3 separate regions of the Homo sapiens genome follow, and all the other regions are linked to region 1. The links come from fine-mapping of genetic effects on gene expression. A gene starts in region 1. Each other region holds a variant in brackets. All regions are shown on one strand. Distances are between the middles of the regions.

Evidence for each region. PIP is the estimated chance that this variant, and not a neighbour inherited with it, causes the effect. A credible set is the group of variants that fine-mapping cannot tell apart.
Region 2: its variant is the best candidate, but not a certain one, in a credible set for the expression of SLC7A1 in adrenal gland (GTEx, PIP 0.62).
Region 3: its variant is the best candidate, but not a certain one, in a credible set for the expression of SLC7A1 in whole blood (INTERVAL, PIP 0.80).

What each region holds. Positions count from the first base shown.
Region 1 is chr13:29,591,709-29,597,576 of GRCh38, forward strand. It overlaps SLC7A1 (solute carrier family 7 member 1), which reads right to left and starts at 3,980. Exons shown (of 13, transcript NM_003045.5): 1 at 3,708-3,980. RefSeq lists enhancers at 776-1,277, 1,278-1,777, 2,867-2,996 and silencers at 2,644-2,938, 3,107-4,346.
Region 2 is chr13:29,568,942-29,574,895 of GRCh38, forward strand. The region is part of intron 1 of SLC7A1 (solute carrier family 7 member 1); the gene reads right to left. Among named protein-coding and RNA genes, the nearest start is that of SLC7A1, 24 kb to the right of the region's middle. RefSeq lists an enhancer at 4,411-4,530. The variant C/T (reference allele first, on the strand shown) is at 3,123.
Region 3 is chr13:29,659,422-29,665,375 of GRCh38, forward strand. No RefSeq gene overlaps it. Among named protein-coding and RNA genes, the nearest start is that of SLC7A1, 67 kb to the left of the region's middle. The variant C/T (reference allele first, on the strand shown) is at 2,675.

The DNA of each region.
Region 1 (5,868 bases):
AAGGGGACAATCAGAAAAAAATGGAAAGACAATGTAGCCAGACATAGTCCTACCAGAAGAAGGGACATCCTCTCCCACCTCCAAATAAACCCCCAGGTTTCCTCGCGCTTGATTTTTGGTTGCCACGGTCAGAAATTTTTGGTTGCCGTGGTCAGAATTGCAGGCTGCTAACAAAAGGACTGATCTCAAGAGAGAAATGTAAATGCATGGACTTGGTGCCTTGATTCTTTCAAAGAACACTGTGGACTCCATGCTTCCTAACTTCACTACTGTGAGGCTGAGAGGGACAGGCTCTCCCAATATACAGATGGAGCCAGTATGTAAGGTTCACGAAGTCTAAATTACTTCAGAGAGAAGCAAAGCCAGAGAAGCCAGGAGCGGTGCTGTTCCCAGTATTGGTCCCAACTCCCCTCAAAGAAGCATCCTTCGTTTCAGGGCAGATAATCATCCCATTCTGCATTGAAGCTGTGAAGGCCTCTTCCCTCAGTCACACGGCTCTGATTCCAGTTATCCAGTGTGTTCACCAAATGCAATACCTGCCATTCCCCACTGTTCCTGACAATAACTAGAGGAAAAAAGCCCAATGAAAGCCACTGGGTGTGGCAGGAGGGGCAAACCACAGACCAGCCAGAATCTGGTCCAAAGCCCAGAAACATCTTTTCTGAAGCCCAAGTTCCTGGGATGACCAAATCTCGACCAGTGGGCCAGGTAAATGGCATCCCCTGGGTCTGCCAACACTGCACATCTGAACGAATGCCTTGGGAGAAAAAGGAACACGGCTAGCAAGCCACCAAATCATTTTCCCAGTTTGATGCCCATCCTTCTGGTAATTCCATTTGGAAATGTACTAAGCCTGGATTGACAGATCATGACCCACACTGAACCACAGGGGTGGTTATTTTCAAGGCTGCTTTGTAGATGGGTATGGGAGTGGGGGAGGAGGCAGATTATGGCAAAACAGAAAGGGAGGCCACTAAAGTTTATCACAAGGCAGATAATCTGCCACAAATGAAGCTACTACTCTGTTCCCTCACGGGAAGAGAGGTCTAAACCCTGGGGTGGATAGCAGGTTGGCCAGGGATCTGATGCCTCCCCACCCGAGGCCTGGGAAACCTGAGGGTAGGCAGATGTCCTGAAGATCCAGGAATACCCCAGGACCTTTGAACCCCATGTATGGAGGGTCTCCATCCCACAGGACAAGTCCACCACCAGGCGGCCCACTAGAAGGCGGCAGGGGAGCAAAGGGAGGCCATGGGCAGCAAGGAGACAGAGGCTGAAGAGACCCCCCAGATTTGGCGAGAGGAGCCAGTAAAGCTAGGTGAAGGGGAAGGAGGCCAGCAGCCTGGACGGGTGGCTGCAACACACAGGCAGGCACCTGAGAGGGGCCCCAAGAAGATACATCTTCCAGCCCTGACCCTGGGGATAAGAGTTCTAAAAAGGTCAGTTGTGACTTTCAAAAAGTCCCTCTTCCATCCAACACGTTCTTTGCTCAGCCTTCCCATCTCATTAATACAGCAACTCCGATGTGCTTGGAGTCATATTTGACCTTTCTCGTCCTTCCATGAATCCACCGGCCAATCCTATTGGATCTGCCTTTAAAATCTATCCAGGTCTGCAGGGGCCAACTATACAGAAAAACACCACATCCTATCGGAAGGTCTTGCTTGGAGTGAGGACCAAGAGGCAGGTGGAGTGATAGGCATCTCTGAAGATGCCTCTGGAAGAGATAACTCCGAGACTCAAGTATCTCCAAGGTTAGAGGGAAACAATATTTTTCTCCATAACAAGGATGCACTTATTCACATTTCAAATTTGTCCCTAGGATTAATAGCAATCCCTCCAAATACATGGTTGATAATGAGAAAGGATTAATTTAATTGGACATAATTCTGAGCCCTCCAACATAATTATCTATTTGTATGGACTTTGGTTAAAATAAACTACAGACCAGAATAATCAATCAACACGTATTTAATTCCATCAAAGAATGAGTTCTTCTACCAAATAGAAAATTGTAACTCCCTGAAGTCAACAGTCTTGTCTTTCAAGCCTTTCTTTTTTTTTTTCACCTAAAGCAAGTAATCATATGTACAGGAGCACGTGGCTCTAGGATCCAGACCCAGACAAGGGAGTACATTTCTGATCTACTTACTAAGCCCTTTCCTCTTTACTCAAAACTCCTTTGACATCCTTTGAATTTTACCTTTATAATAATTAAACATGATCGTAATATGCTAAACCTATTTTTAAAACCATTTTAATCTATTGTTGACCTTTCCCCTAAGTTTCTATTCTGTTCGTGTGACTTAAATAAGACCTTTTGTTTTAATAACAGGAGGGTGTGTTCATATAAAAATCATGGTAATTTCCACTGAGATCAACTAAAAATACCAGAGGAATAAATGTATCATGGTTTCCTATTATCTGAACCAAACATAAAGGGCAAGAAATGTTAGGAAAAATCCCAGATAAATTATAATTCGAATTAAATACAATTAGGGCATTCGGCCAGAGGCCGACATACACAATTCTACTAGTCGAATGTAAGTAAGATAAAAGGCACATTCTTTAGGGAGATACACCTGGGATTGAAATCTCAACCATCTGGTAACTATGTCTGGACTAAAACCCAACACATGAGGGCATGGCGGTGATGACGTGAGTATTGGGAAATGTAGGTTATTTATTTATTTTTTTCCTGAAGGCACATGTCTGACTATCCTAGTCACACAAGTCAAACACAACTGCTGTCTGGTTCCCCCATCCCCTGGAAAGGGTCAGGAGCTGAACCAGCAGGCTGTTGTAGTACTACAGTGCAGCTGCCGCTCTGTGTACGCGCAGGTTTTAGAATGACTCTGACCTGCCCATGCCTGGGAAGTTTTCTACTACGCAGAAAGGAACACCCTGAGAATACGGTGTCTTGCTAAAGGCGGAAGAACTTCCTCTCATTCCAAACCATGTGGAGGGCTTGAGGAACCCGGCCTTTCCAGGCCACACTGGGTCACAAGGAAGCCCACCTAGGGGAGACTTCCTCAAAGCAATCTTGGGGACCCAGACGAGAGGTGCAGGCGGCGCGTCCCGGGTTCTAGGGACAAGCGGAGAGCCAGGCGCCCTAGGTCAGGGCGGCCACCGGGCGGGGATGGCAGCAGAGTCCCTGGGCCGGCCACCTGCCGCGGGACCACCCTCCGGGCGGCCGGGCAGAGTCCCCACCCACGGCTGATGACACATCCCCGGACCTCGTGGCGGGGCGGGGTGCTCTGCACCGCGCCATGTAAGGGAAGGTCTCCTCGCCGCCGGCGGGCTCCGTGTGCCTCCCAGTCTGGCCCCCGTGCCCGCCGCCCGCCTACGCACCCCGACCACCCCGTGCGTAGCGGCGCGCGGGTCCCCGGACAGGCGCGCGGAGCGGGCATCGCCAGATCGCCCACGCTTACTCACTCGGTGTTGCATCATGCACCACGCCGCGGTTTCAGGGAGCCAAAATGGACTCCGTGGAGGCGACAGTCGCATGGGCACCAGCCCCGCTCGCCCACTCCGGGGCCCGCCCGGCCCTGGTCCTGGCCCTTCCCAGAGGATGGCAGCGTTCCCGGCGCGGGGGCCCTCGCCACTCCCGCGCCGCCCTGCCGCGGCCCCACGCGGCGCCAGGGCCCCCTCCGTGATGACCCGGGCCCAAGGAGCTGCCCCCTGCGTTGGCGGGGCCGGGCACTCACCAAGCCGGCGGCGGCGGGGCTCCGGCAGGATCGCGAACAGACAGACTGTCGGACGCGCTCAAGGACCAACGGACGCTCGGCCGGCGAGACCGGGCGGGGCGGGGCGGGGCGGGGGCGCGGCGCGCGGGGAGAGGAGTGGAGGCTGCGGTTAGCGGGAGCCCGCGGCCGCGTGCGCGCCTGCCAGGTAGTTGACCCGCTGCTCACACCTGCCTGCGCGGACTGAATGGGCGCCGAGGGCTGGCGGGTTCCGGCGCCAGGTTTCATCAGCAGTGCGCCCGGCCCCCGCCCCTCGCGCTCCGCGCCCCGCGCCCCACGCCCGCCCCCGGACCAGGCAGCCCCGGCCCGCTCGGCCGCGTCACCGCCGGGCACCAATGGGAGCGCGGCGCGGCGGCGGCTGCCAGCCCAGAGGCTGCGGCCGGGGACCGACGCGCCCTTGGTGGGCGGGGCGGCTGAGTCTTCGCGCGCCCAGCGCCCCAACCTGGGGTTCCCGCGGCGGGCGGGCGGGCTGCGCCTCCGCTCGCCTTCTCAGTAGCTCCGTAGGCGTGTGGCCGTTTCTCCGCCAATCTGAGCGCACCGCGCCACAGCATCCTGTGGTCCCCTGCAGATCCCACAGCGCCCTGGCCAGAACTAGTGCTGCAGGTCCGGCCGTGCCAACCCCCTCCCGGCGGGCCCCAGGGAGCTCACACGGAACTCGAGACCAGTTTTCCTTCTCCAAAATAAAAGATTTGGTATGCACTTAAAAGGTTTAAACTGTTTTCTTTTCATTTTAGAGACAGGGTGTTACTCTATTGCCCAGGCTGGAGCGCAGTTCACCTTAACCTCGAAATCCTGGCCTCAAGCGATCCTCCCGCCTGGGCCTCCCAAAGCGCCCTAGGATTACAGTCCTGAAACACTGCACCGGCCTAAAAATTATTATAAATCTTCATGTCTTTGTTATTGGATTATTTTATTACTATTCCTTTGCCCTTGCTAATACCTTATCCTTGCCAGTTGTCAGAAGAGCCCCAAAGCTTGAATCTACCTGTGCCCCCTTGGCAGTGGCAAATGCACAAACGGCTAGTCAGAACGGCTCACTTTTGCAGTTACCCCCCAGGAAGTGGCAGAAGCTTCAGTCCTGAATCACACCGTGCTCACCTTTTAAGCTCCCTCCTTGTCTCCTTTTGTACCAAAAGCCAAGCGAGAATCATAATCTTTAAAGATCCAGTGATCTGGGACTTGGGATAGGTAAACAGGGCATAAATTAATAATGCCATCCTTCTTCTATCTTATAGGAAAACAGAAAAACAGTGGACGGTGTCCGTGGTCTTTGAATCCTTTCTACAGGTCCTTCTCAAATATCAGCTGCTGAACTATTCCCTTGGAATTAGACTAGCAATTTATAAAGTACATAACTGCATGGTGCTAGCTTCAGAAAAAGTGTTCTGTTGTTGTTGCTGTTGTCATTTGTTTGTTTTTTAGAGACAGGGGTCTCACTCTGTCACCCAGGCTGGAATGCAGCGGTACAATCATAGCTCACTGGAACTTCAAATTCCCAGGCTCAAGCCATCCTCCTGCCTCAGCCTCCCAAGCAGATGGAACTACAGGCTTGTGTCATCACGCCTAGTTAATATTTTTTCTACATATAGACACGGGTTTTTGATATGTTGCATAGGCTGGCCTCAAATACCAGCTGTCTAGCGATCATTTTGCCTCAACCTCCCCTAGCATCGGGACTACAGGGATGAGCCAGAAAAAGTCCCCAGAAAAAGTTTTAATGAACACATGCAGATGGCTTAGCAGTTGTAAAATGTGTTTTTGTCTTTGTTTTAGAGAGTGGGTCTCACTCTGTCACCAAGTTGGAGTGCAGTGGCAACATCATAGCTCACTGCAGCCTTGAACTCCTAGGCTCAAGCGATCGCCTCACTTTAGCTTCCCCAGTAGCTGGAAATATAGGCGAGCACCATCCTGCCCAGCTTTGTAATGTGCTTTGAACAGTGCTTGACATCATAGTAAGCCACCATATATGCTTTGTTTTAAAGCAACAAATCTGGCCTGTCACGGTGGCTCACGCCTGTAATCCAGCACTTTGGGAGGGCAAGGCAGGCAGATCATGAGGTCAGCAGATTGACACCATCCTGGCCAACATGGTGAAACCCCGTCTCTACTGAAAATACAAAAATGA
Region 2 (5,954 bases), 23 kb before region 1:
ATTACCCAACAAGCCACCAGCTTAAATTCATCAAAACGGGTCTCTGTCCAGTCACTTTGATTCCATTTTAAGAACGGACTCCTATCTAAAGCAAAGAAAAATGTGGGCTGCACAACTCATCTGACTTGTTTTTGTCCTCAGCTCAGCCGAGGGCACCTGGCTCTCTGCCCCATGTCTGAAATCGCATCCTGTTTGCCCCCAGAGCCACTCCCTGCCTTCCCCACTACGAGGCCCACCTGTATGCATCCCGAGCTCTCTGGGCACTGGCAGGGAGGAGTGAGGCGAAGGAGGACCCTCTCTGCGGGCTGTCTCATTGGAGATCGGCCCTTCACCAAGCCAGGTGCAGCCTCAAAACCATCCCTTCCCCTCAGGTTGAGGGTGTTAGAAGTGGTTAGGGCCCCCTCACTACTCCAGGCTGTGAACCCCCTGCCCTGCCTTTGTAAAAAGTCACTTTATTTAAACTCACCTCAAACTGCCCATCCTGAGAATGCACTCTGCTCCCTGCAGGGCCCCTGATGGCAACAGCCTTAGGGGCAGTGAGCTCTGGATGTCTGCAGCTACCAGGCCCACTGCAAGTGTGAGGGCTTGACCTCATGAGGCGGGGGCTGCAATAATCACATGATAGCCCTCCTCCTTCTAAATCGAGCTCCTAAGGACACCAGATTAATCACCACTAGCCCATTCTCAAGAGTACCCACAGTGAGTCTAGTGATAGGTTACAACAACACATTGCACTATCAAGACAGATTTTTAAAAAATTCTTCAATGTAATGCAATAACATCTGAGCAGCTGGTATGCAGCAGACACTGTGCTAGGTCTTTCACATACCTAGAAAAGCAACCATCAGTCCTCATTTCATAAATGAGAACACTGAACCTCAAAGAGTTTCAGCGGTGCTTATCAGAGCTCTAGGAGGCTGAGGCAGGAGTCGCCCCAAAGGCCCGCAGATCCACCTCCATGGCTGGCCAGGCTCCAACCAGCAAACAAAGCACACGGCTGCTGGCTAGCCTGGCCACAGACGTCCTGGTCACATTACACAAATTAAAAGAAAAACAGAACCAGAAACAAAAGTTTTCTAACATCATACAGAACTCCCTGAATGCCACATTCACATAATCACATTACCTGGGTGGGCCAGCAGGTGAAATTACCTAGCAGCTCCCCACCTGCCTGTGAATCCTGGGGAAGCTCATTCACATGTTCCTCTGGCATTAAACGAATGGCTGCTCTGCTATGTGCAGTGGTCCCTCTGCTGAACCTCCTCTGCCCCGAACTCAGCATGGAGGAGGAGGCCACGGCCTGCCACGTGCCTGGGTACAAAGGCCTAGCAGTTTGCATCAAGCAACGTTATTGACTTGCCATTGAATAGAAAAATTCTTTCCATGTCCCATTTCATATTTGCTCACGGAACTGATGAGGAATCAGAAGCCCTGCCCTCGCTGTGTGAACTTGAACAAGTTACGCTATGTTGCTGTTTCAGTTCTACCATCTGAAGCGGGGATAATGACAGTGTCACCCACACCCGCCCCCCTACCTCCATCTTGTTCCTCCTGTGAGGCTCAAGAGACAGTGAGACAGATAGAAGTTAAACTCTCAGGTTAAACTGGATTCAAAACATGATGGGACCGGGCACGGTGGCTCACGTCTATAATCCCAGCACTTTGGGAGGCCAAGTCAGGCGGATGGATGGCTTGAGCCCCGGAGTTGGAGACCAGCCTGGGCAACATAGCAAAACCAAGTCTCTACAAAATACAGGAAAAAAAAATTAGCGAGAGATGGTGGCTTGTGCTTATAGTCCCAGCAACCAAGGAGGCTGAGACGGGAGGATCACTTGAGCCTAGGGAGGTAGAGGTGGCAGTGAGCCATGATCATGCCACTGCACTTGGGTCTGGGCAACAAAGAGAGACTTTGTCTCAAAAAAAAAAAAAAAAGATGGGCAAGTTATTTAATTTCTTTGAGTCTCCCTTTTCTCCTTTGCAAGATGAGGAGGTTTCAATGAATTTATATATGTAAAGCACTGCAGAGCACCTGGTGCATAGTATGCGCTATATGTTAACTATATTACTATTATTAGTTTCTTAATGTATAAGACATCTCATTAGTAGCCAACTTATAAAGTGCTGTGAAGATTAAGTACCCAAAATGATAACTGTTTTTGCCATACCATATGAAGGTATTAGGTTGGTGCAAAAATAATTGCAGTTTTTGCCATTAAAATAGCAAAAATTGTATTTTGTAATCACCAAAGTACTATACAAATATACAGTTTAAAAAATAAAATAAGGTTATTGTTTGATGTATTTCCATCTGCCCTGATTCAGATGGTGGAAGACTTGAGGGCTGTTGCCCAGAAATATTAAAATTGACTTAAAACTATTACAAACATAAACAAAATGGGAAAATTATAAAAACATAACATAATGACATTTTATGGCCGATTTTAATTTTAAAACATTTAAACATGTAAAGGTCCCAGGCTCTATAGCATCAACCACCAAAGCCCTTGGCGGTGCCTGAATGCAGGGTGGTGAAGAGCTGGCCATGGCTGTGGCCTTTCTAGATCGCAATGAAGTGACCATCAGACATCTGCCGGGGGGTCCTCACTCATGGATAGTCCCGCTCACCCAGAGGCCTTTCCATCTCAGTTTGGCTTTTGGGCCAAATTTGGAAGCATTACACTTCATTAAGGAAATGAAAGGCTTTTGCTTTACCTATTCCACCAGAGGGGCGGCTTCTCCAATTTCTTCCACTCTGAACTCAGGCGGAAAAGGATTGCCCAGTCCAGAGCCGCTTTCCTCCTTCCAGGAGGTCTGGACACTCACAAAGCCCAGTTATTTGTTTTGCAAACTGTGTATACATTGAATGGAAATGTTTGTTTTCCATATCCCGCTTTACGTCTCTAAAGACAAATGATTAAAGAATCATTTCAAGGGCATTTTTTGTTTTGCTCATCCCCTCCAACCTGCTTGTATTAAGCAGCCTCACTTCCTGCCTTTTAACTTACATTTCTGTCCACCTATCATCCACTCTTCTTTGTTGACCTTTGCGTGTACAGTGTTGCTTCAAAAACCTTCAAAGGAAAGGTCAAAGTGAAATGTCACAAGGGAAGCAGGCCTGATGG[C/T]CAGTGGCCAAGGAGGCACCAATGCCCAGGTCTGAGGCTGCCTGTGGCATGCATGACACTGCCCCAAAACGCAGGTGGTGAGGGTGCAGCGGCCGCCTGTGGGTCCCAAGCACGACTCCAAGTGCGACACGCTGTCTAGGCCATCTGGTCCCACACCAAGTCACATCTGTGCCCAGAGAAGCCCAGTGGACCAGTGCGGGCCCCCCAGCCCTCAGGGCAGAGCCAGGACGCTTCACACAAGAGTCACTCATTGGATTTTCTACTCCACGCACACGCTGTCAATAATGGCAGGCGCCACCTAAAGGGGCAGGTGCCAGTGTAATTTAACAGGGGAGAAAAAGTACAGAGGCCACCCAGGAGGATGCTGGAAAGACAGAGGGTGGGGAGTGGGAAGAAACACTCAGGACCCGCGGCACCAGGGCGTGGGACTAGAACGAAAAGCAAGAAGACCATGTGAGGGGCAGGGGAGGAAGGACTGGCCGGATGCCATCAGTTATCATCAATATGAAGGGAATGAGCCCAAGGTAACTCTGAAATCCTAAACTTGGATTTGGAAGCACTGAATCTGAGCTGAGGGTGGCCCTCAGTAAGGCACTGTGGCCCTACCGCTCTGGTTCCCCCAGTCGTTCTCTGCCCTAGTTTGTAATCTACAAAGTGATCAGAAGCTCATAAAACATGGGCACGAGCACTACAGTTGACCAGCACTGGGCGGGGAAGGTGATCCTGGGAAACCTGCATGGGACTGTGCACACCAACCACACCAACCAGAAGCAGCCAACACACACAACCGCAAGGGCCAACTCAACATGGTAATCAACATCTAAAGCTGCACAATTTGATGGAGGAAAACTCCACTTGGAAGGGATAAGTGGTCCAGGAGAAACAGAGACAGAAGCTCAAAGCTGTCAGATCTGCCACAGACAAGTGGCTGGTAAATACAAGAAACCTTTCTTGAAAATGCAGATAGCAAATAATCTATCCTGGAGAGAATAATGTCACGAAACATGAAAAATGTAAATGGTTTATTTGTGCTCTAAAAACACAATGATTTAAACTGAAGGTCACTCAGGACAATATTGTCATCAAAAAATTCTTTGGTGATGACATATATCTGATAAAATATTTATATTCCTAAATGACAGTCAAAATATCCTCGGATCAAAAAGCAGTCTTGCCACATGTCCTGTGTCCAACAGAACAGATAGAACTATCTGGCAAGCAGGTGGGGCTGTGAGAATCTGAAACGAGGAACTTGGATGTGGAGCACACCCAGAGGCACGTGTTGCCGGGAGTGAGATCCCTGGGAGAAAAGAAGGCAGCTGTTACCAGAATCGCGGGGAACACCACACTCTGGCAGCTGAAGGAGGAAGTAGCACACAGATGATGGGGAGGTGCAATTCTAGAGTCCAAAGGCAGACGGACTTCTCTAAAGCCAGAGAGTGTCTGACTCTGTGTGTCTGCCTTAAGGCCCACATCGTCCCCTTTCAAAGTGCACCAGGAGCCACAAAAGACAATGTGACTGGATGGTAACTTAGCAAAGAGCTGTCAGATCAAATACAGGACTGCCCAGTTAAATCTAAATTTCATGTGAATGACCAATAATTGGTTAATGTAAGTATGCCCCAAATATATCACAATGATGTCCCAAATATTGCCAACAAATAATCTTTTAGTATAAAAAAGTTATACTAAAAAAAGTATCCATTGCTTATTTATAATTCAAATTTAACTGGGCATCCAGTATTTTTATTGCTAAACCTGGTAACCCTGGTTTGGTACTGACAGCTCAGGCCTCAGGCCTGAACACCTCCCCTTTGCCCAGCACCTTTCTAGCCGCAGACCATGAACCCTGACTTCCACAGGCATTTCTGCGTACCCAGCTACTAACAAGCAATGACTCCATTCTTTGACAAGCTCTCTCACATGCTGAAAACAAAGAAAGCCTCCTTCAACAGACCCAGAAAATTAGAGAATCTGTAGAAAGGAATGGCCAATCGTATTAAATGTTTCAGAGACACCACAGGGGGTGAGGACTGAGACAAAATCAGGATATTGTCTAATTCAAGAGAGAGGAAATTGAAATTGTGAGCAGTTTTAGTAGAATAGTAGGAGCTTAGTTTACAAAGGGATGAAGATAGATGGTAAGAGTGTGACATTCTCTTTCATTCACTTAATCATTAAAAAACAGGGTTCTTGACCAACTGCCTGTGTTATCACTCTAGCTGTGGGAGATGCCTTGCAACTTCCAGAAAGGCCTACAGAGCTCCCCATTCAGAGCTGAAAGTACATTTTTTATTAATTTTCACCAAATATCACTGACGCTTAATGTTGCCTAGTGCTCACGTGAACAAGAACACGAACTCATCTGTGGGAGTTATGGCCCATAAGGGCAAGAACCTGGGAAAGTCAGTGCCAGCACCTGTAGGAGCTCACCCAATACCTGTGGAACACATGAATACATGAATGGAGGCTGTCTTCTCAAAGAGCCTGTTTTGAAATTTGAAATCTTACATAAAAATGGAAAGCCAAGGTCTAGGGTAAACCTTAACATTTCGTAGCACTCACTGGAGCAGCTAATGCTTTTTTTTTTTTTTTTTTTTGAGACGGAGTCTTGCTCTGTCACCAGGCTTGAGTGCAGTGGTGCGATCTCGGCTCACTGCAAGCTCCGCCTCCTGGGTTCACGCCATTCCCCTGCCTCAGCCTCCCAAGTAGCTGGGACTACAGGTGCGCGCCACCATGACTGGCTAATTTTTTTGTATTTCAGTATAGACGGGGTTTCACCATGTTGGCCAGGATGGTCTCGATCTCCTGACCTCGTGATCCACCTGCCTC
Region 3 (5,954 bases), 68 kb after region 1:
AATTGAGCCTTGTTTTGCATCTTGTTAATTTAGATTCTCCTTACTCAGTCATCCCACTTTTTTCAGAATCTATTTTATAAAAATAAAAGTACTGGTATACAAAGATATTTACAGAGACAATATTTGTAGTAACAACAACAACAAAAAGGGCTGGGCGTGGTGGCTCACGTCTGTAATCCCAGCACTTTGGGAGGCCAAGGCAGGCAGATCACTGGAGGTCAGGAGTTCAAGACCAGCCTGACCAATATGGTGAAACCCCATCTCTACTAAAAATACAAAAGTTAGCCAAGTGTGGTGGTGAGTACCTGTAGTCTCAGCTACTCAGGAGGCTGAGACAGAAGAATTGCTTGAACCCAGGAGGCAGAGGTTGCATTCAGCCAAGATTGTGCCACTGCACTCCAGCATCGGCAACAGTGAGACGTCGTCTCGAAGAAAGAAAGAAGAAAGAAAGAAAGAAAGAAAGAAAGAAAGAAAGGAAGAAAGGAAGAAAGGAAGAAAGGAAGAAAGAAAGAAAGAAAGAAAGGAAGGAAGGAGGAAGGAAGGAAGGAAGGCAGGCAGGCAGGAAGGAAGGAAGAAAAAGAAAGAAAGAAAAGAAAAGAGAAAGCAAGCCTAACTCTCCATCTATAAAGGAATGGTGGATGTGCAATTAACCCATGGTGTGTTCATACAATGGACTATTAGGCAGCTATTACACACAATGAGTTACACTATCTGTATTACCTGGAAGGATATTAATTATATACTAGTTGCAGAGAATAAAAGAAATTGCAGAATAATGTTGTTTGAAATGCTTGTTCCCCAGTGCTGTAAAGAAACAGCACTTGAACATTAAATTTAATTTGCTCGGCAAGGCCATTTTTATACTTTCTGCAGAAAGGGTACACTCGCCAGCAGTTTTGCCATGAGAGTACACTGAACAAAGGAGACAGGGTCATTTATAACCTGATGTGTCCACTCTACTGCTGTGTCTGGTTTCCATTGGCTGGAACAGGACCTCACATTCTGTATTTGTCCCGATTGGCTAGCAACTTACAACTTTTTAAAAGAGGCAAAGGTAGAGGAGAACAAAGGAAGGAGGAAGTAACTTGTGGAATGCTGAGAAAGGTAAAAACACCTTCAAATAAGGAAGAGGAACAGGCTATGACCTAATGCTGGCTTGGACTAGTATAAGCATGACAGGACAAATATTTAAGCTAAATTGTGGGAGCTAAGAACTAAAGAACGTTGATTTCTTTATCATGGCTAGCAGATATTTAAGAATGTTAGCACAGGTCTTTGAATAAATTTTGCTTCTAAAAGAAGTTACTATTTATTCCTAATTAAATGGGGAGGAAAGTCTTTGAAGAGGAACCTCTACTTTACTTTTTACAATGTGTATAATGTGATCCATTAAAAAACACACACACTTTACTTATTTGTGTACATTTGAATGAGTGTGGAGCAGGGTGGGAAAGGATGCACCCAAGATATCAATATTGGTCATCTTAGTGGATAGTAACACAGCAAGAACAAGGAGAGCATCTTTACTTTGTATGTCTACTTTAAAGTTGTTGTGCATATTACTGCATGCATTTTGGGGGATTAAAGAATAATATAATAAAGAAAAAGTAAAGGAAGAAAATGAAATTTGATAAAACTGTAAGAAGAAATTGCTCAGAAAGTGTTGGGTTCTAAAAATTATTCAAGGAAGAGATAATTCCAACATTATAAAAACTATTACAGAGTAGAAAAAATGGAAATCTTCTAACATAATTTTTGGAGGCTAGATTTACCATGGTACTAAAACTAGAAAGGAAAACTAGAGGCCAATTTCAATCGCAATTGACCGTCCCTTCAAAAAAAATCCAAAATAAAACATTAACAAACTGACTCAAGTTATTAAAAAGATAAGACAAGGTAGTCAAATTAAATTATCCAGTAATTGAAGGTAGCTTCACATTAGAAAATCTATTAATATAATACTAACCTTAACAGATTAAAGGAGAAACTATAAATGCTGAAAAATAATTGTATAAAATTCAACAATTCCTTTTTTTTTTTAAAGAAAAATAAAGGCTCTTTAGTAAGTTGGGAATATACAGACCCTTCCTTCAACTGATGTACCATGCTGGCTGTATTCCCTGGGCCCGTAAGTTCCAGTTTTCATTCATCTGCAGAGACCCTGGCAAAGGTTTCTACTCTCCTGGTGGGTCCTCTGGTTTCCTCCTGAAACTAACAGGAACCTCACCAAGAAGCTGGAGGAAAGAGGAGAGTGGGTCAGGGTATTTGTTTCTGGATCTCCTCCCTGCAAGGTCACCTGAGTAGTTGCTGGAGCTCTCAAGGCAGTGGACTCCACAGACTCTTCCTTCTGCGTTCTGGCACGTGTTCCCTCCTCAACCCTCTCCCTTAGAGGTGTTGGAAGTGCAGCTGCTCCTGAGCCCTGGATTGCTTCTCTATCCCTTGTGGTACCCTTTACCTGAACCTTTGTCAATACAGCAAATTCTTGTTATTGGAGGTAGATGTGTACTACAAAATCATTACAAACACTGAATTAACAAATACCAAATCATCACTCCTAGAGGAAATACAAGGTTAGGTACCTGTGAGCCTCTGGTCAAATATTTTCATTAACCAATTGATACATAACCTTGCTTTCTATGTGTTTCTTACACATATTTAATCTATATCATTGACT[C/T]ATTAACATTGAACTTACAGCCAACAGCACTATAACTCATGCCTGAATGAAGCTTCTCCAACACACCTATTTTCTCCTTAAGGCACATCATAGCCTTTGAGGACTAAACTCTGACTTTTTTTTTTTATCTTGCAGAAACTCCTATCTAAGGAGTCTGGGGAATCATGTCCTACAAACCACAAATTCTCATCAGATGGGTTTTATTTAACCTTGTATATCGTGATTTATTTTCCAATGTAACTCTGGAATAACAAGAAAGAAAATCAAAATGTTCTATTCCAAAACATGTTTCTCTGCCATATCTTAAACTTGCCCTGCAAAGTGTCTTGTGGGAAAATCTACATTCTATAGAGAATCCCCTTTGTTTTCCTTCCTTCCTTTCCAAATCCAGGAGATAATCAACCAAGAGTCAGGCACGCTTTTAAGTCCAATAAGAAACATTTTACAATCTGCTGTCTCTAAAGTCTGCTATCTGAGAGCTTCCTCTGCACAACAAAACTTGGTCTCCACAATCCTTTATCTTAACCTGAACATTTCTTTTCTATTGATCCCAGGTCTTCCAGTAAACTCAACAAATTGTCAACCAGAAAATGTTTAAATTTACCTATAGCCTGGAAGCCCCCACTTTGAGTTGTCCCACCTTTCTGAACCAAACCAATGTATTTCTTAAATGTTTTGATTCATGTCTCATGCCTCCCAAAAGTATATAAAACCAAGCTATACCCCAACCACCTTGGCACATGTTCTCAGGACCTCCTGAGAGCTGTGTCATGGGCCATGGTCACTCATATTTGGCTCAGAATAAATCTCTTAAAATATTTTACAGAGTTTGACTCTTTTCGTCAACAACTTCTTTCACTAAATAGACAGCACCTCAGCAATGTGTTTCGGGGCCATTTTAAACAGAAAAATCACAAGAAAAAGCACAGAAATTCAAAACATGTGGTACTAGATAAACCACGAAAAAATGCATGCTTACTTATGAGAGCTTAAACAACAAGGCAGATGTCGCCTTGTTTGACATCAGCTAGGAAGATGCACTTTGGTGACTCCATTTGTTTTTCACCATTCTGTGTATTAATGTTCATGAATTACTGAGAAAGTAAGGTGGTTATTGGTAATAGGGTTACAAATAAATTTTAACAAGTAGGTAAATTTGCAAATATAGAATCGTGAATAATGAGGATCTACTCTTTATAAACAAACTCTTCTCAGATTATGCTATTTCAAAATGTTATCAATTTCTTATTTGGAGTCTGATGTAATAGGTATATATGACAGAAACCTATTGCAAATACCATAATAAATGATGAAAAATTAGAAGCATTACTATTAATGGAACAAGGAAAGGCTGCTGCGTCATTCACTGTGCTGGACATCCTTGGCCAATGTGATAAGGAAAAAACAAAAACATGAATATTGACAAGAAAAACCAAAAATGTATTTGATTTAGAATGATATAATTATCTACCCATGAAGTCCAAGAAAATAAATTAAAACCCTATTTAACATATAAATGTGAATGTGAATGCATATAAAATCAACATATGAAAAGTAATAGCTTCTCAATTTGCTTACCAAAACCATTAGAAATTGAAAAAATAATTGCATTTACACCACCAATAAAACCTCTAAAATGGCCGGGCGCGGTGGCTCACGCCTGTAATCCCAGCACTTTGGGAGGCCGAGGCGGGTGGATCATGAGGTCAGGAAATCGAGACCATCCTGGCTAACAAGGTGAAACCCCGTCTCTACTAAAAATACAAAAAATTAGCTGGGCGCAGTGGCGGGCGCCTGTAGTCCCAGCTACTCGGGAGGCTGAGGCAGGAGAATGGCGTGAACCCGGGAAGCGGAGCTTGCAGTGAGCCGAGATTGCGCCACTGCAGTCCGCAGTCCGGCCTGGGCAACAGAGCGAGACTCCGTCTCAAAAAAAAAAAAAAAAAAAAAAAACCTCTAAAATTCCTAGGAATAATAAGCAAAATATAACACTCATAAGGATAAAAAAAACTTATTAAAGAAAAAACTGAATAAATGGAGAGTTATATCACGTTCCTAATTTGGATGACTCAATATTTTAAAAAGGTCAATTGTCCCCAAATTAATCTATAAATTCTTTGCAATACCACTCAAAACCTCCTCCCCATCTCAAATCTTACAACACATGTCAAATGGTTTTACATTTTTATTTGGAAGAGAACATGTACCAGACCAGCAAAGTCTATTTTGAAATAGGAGACTAAGGAGGCTATCAAAGTACACTATAAGTTATAATAATTTAAAAAGTGTGACATAAGGGGGGAAATAAAGAAATCAATGGAACATAATTTAGAGTCTAGAAACAGACCTATGTATATATAGAAATTTAGTAAATGACAAAGGTCGCACTTGGGACCAGTAAGTAAAAAATTCAATAAATGGTGTTGGAAAATAAATGGTGCAAGAAGGTATTTGCAACATATATAATATGAGACTAAGAATGAATATACAGAATATATAATCAATTCCTACAGATCAGTAAGAGAAAATGCAAAAGAAAAGTGGACAAAGATTCTGAAAAGACAATTTAGAGGAAAACATGCAAATGACCAGCAATGGAAGGAAAAGATCCTCAATTTCAAAGCAATCAGAGAAATGCAAATTAGAGCAGCAATGAGATATCACTTCCACCCATCAGTTTGGCAAAAACGGAAGAGACTGATCTTAGCAAGCATTAATGAGGAAGTGGGGAAACAGTATTTTCCTGCATTATAAGTGGCACAGCTCTTTTGAGGTACAACATGGCAGTAGAAATTAAAATGTTAAATATACATACCAGATGATCCAAAAATCCACTTCTAGTTATCTAATGTGGAGAAATACTTGCATATAAACTTGAAATATTGATTGTAGCAGTGAAAAAATTGGAAACCAACTTAAATGTCTATTAAGAGTGGTTAAATAATCTGTTATACTTTTATACTATGGCTCATTGTGGCAATTTTTAAAAAGCTTGATCAATATATATGAGCACTGAAATATATCTAAGACATATACTGTTAAATTTAAAAAGCATATTGTTGGGAAATACCATGTTATGTAATATACTATGCTAAATTTAAAAATCTACACAAAACTGTTTACTTCTATTTTTGCCTATGTTGGTATCTATGTAAACACATTTTAAAATATCTGTAAGAATACACCCCAGACTCCTGGGCAAGATGGCCAAATAGGAGCAGCTCTGGTCTCCAGCTCCCAGTGAGACCAATGCAGAAGGTGGGTGATTTCTGCATTTCCAACC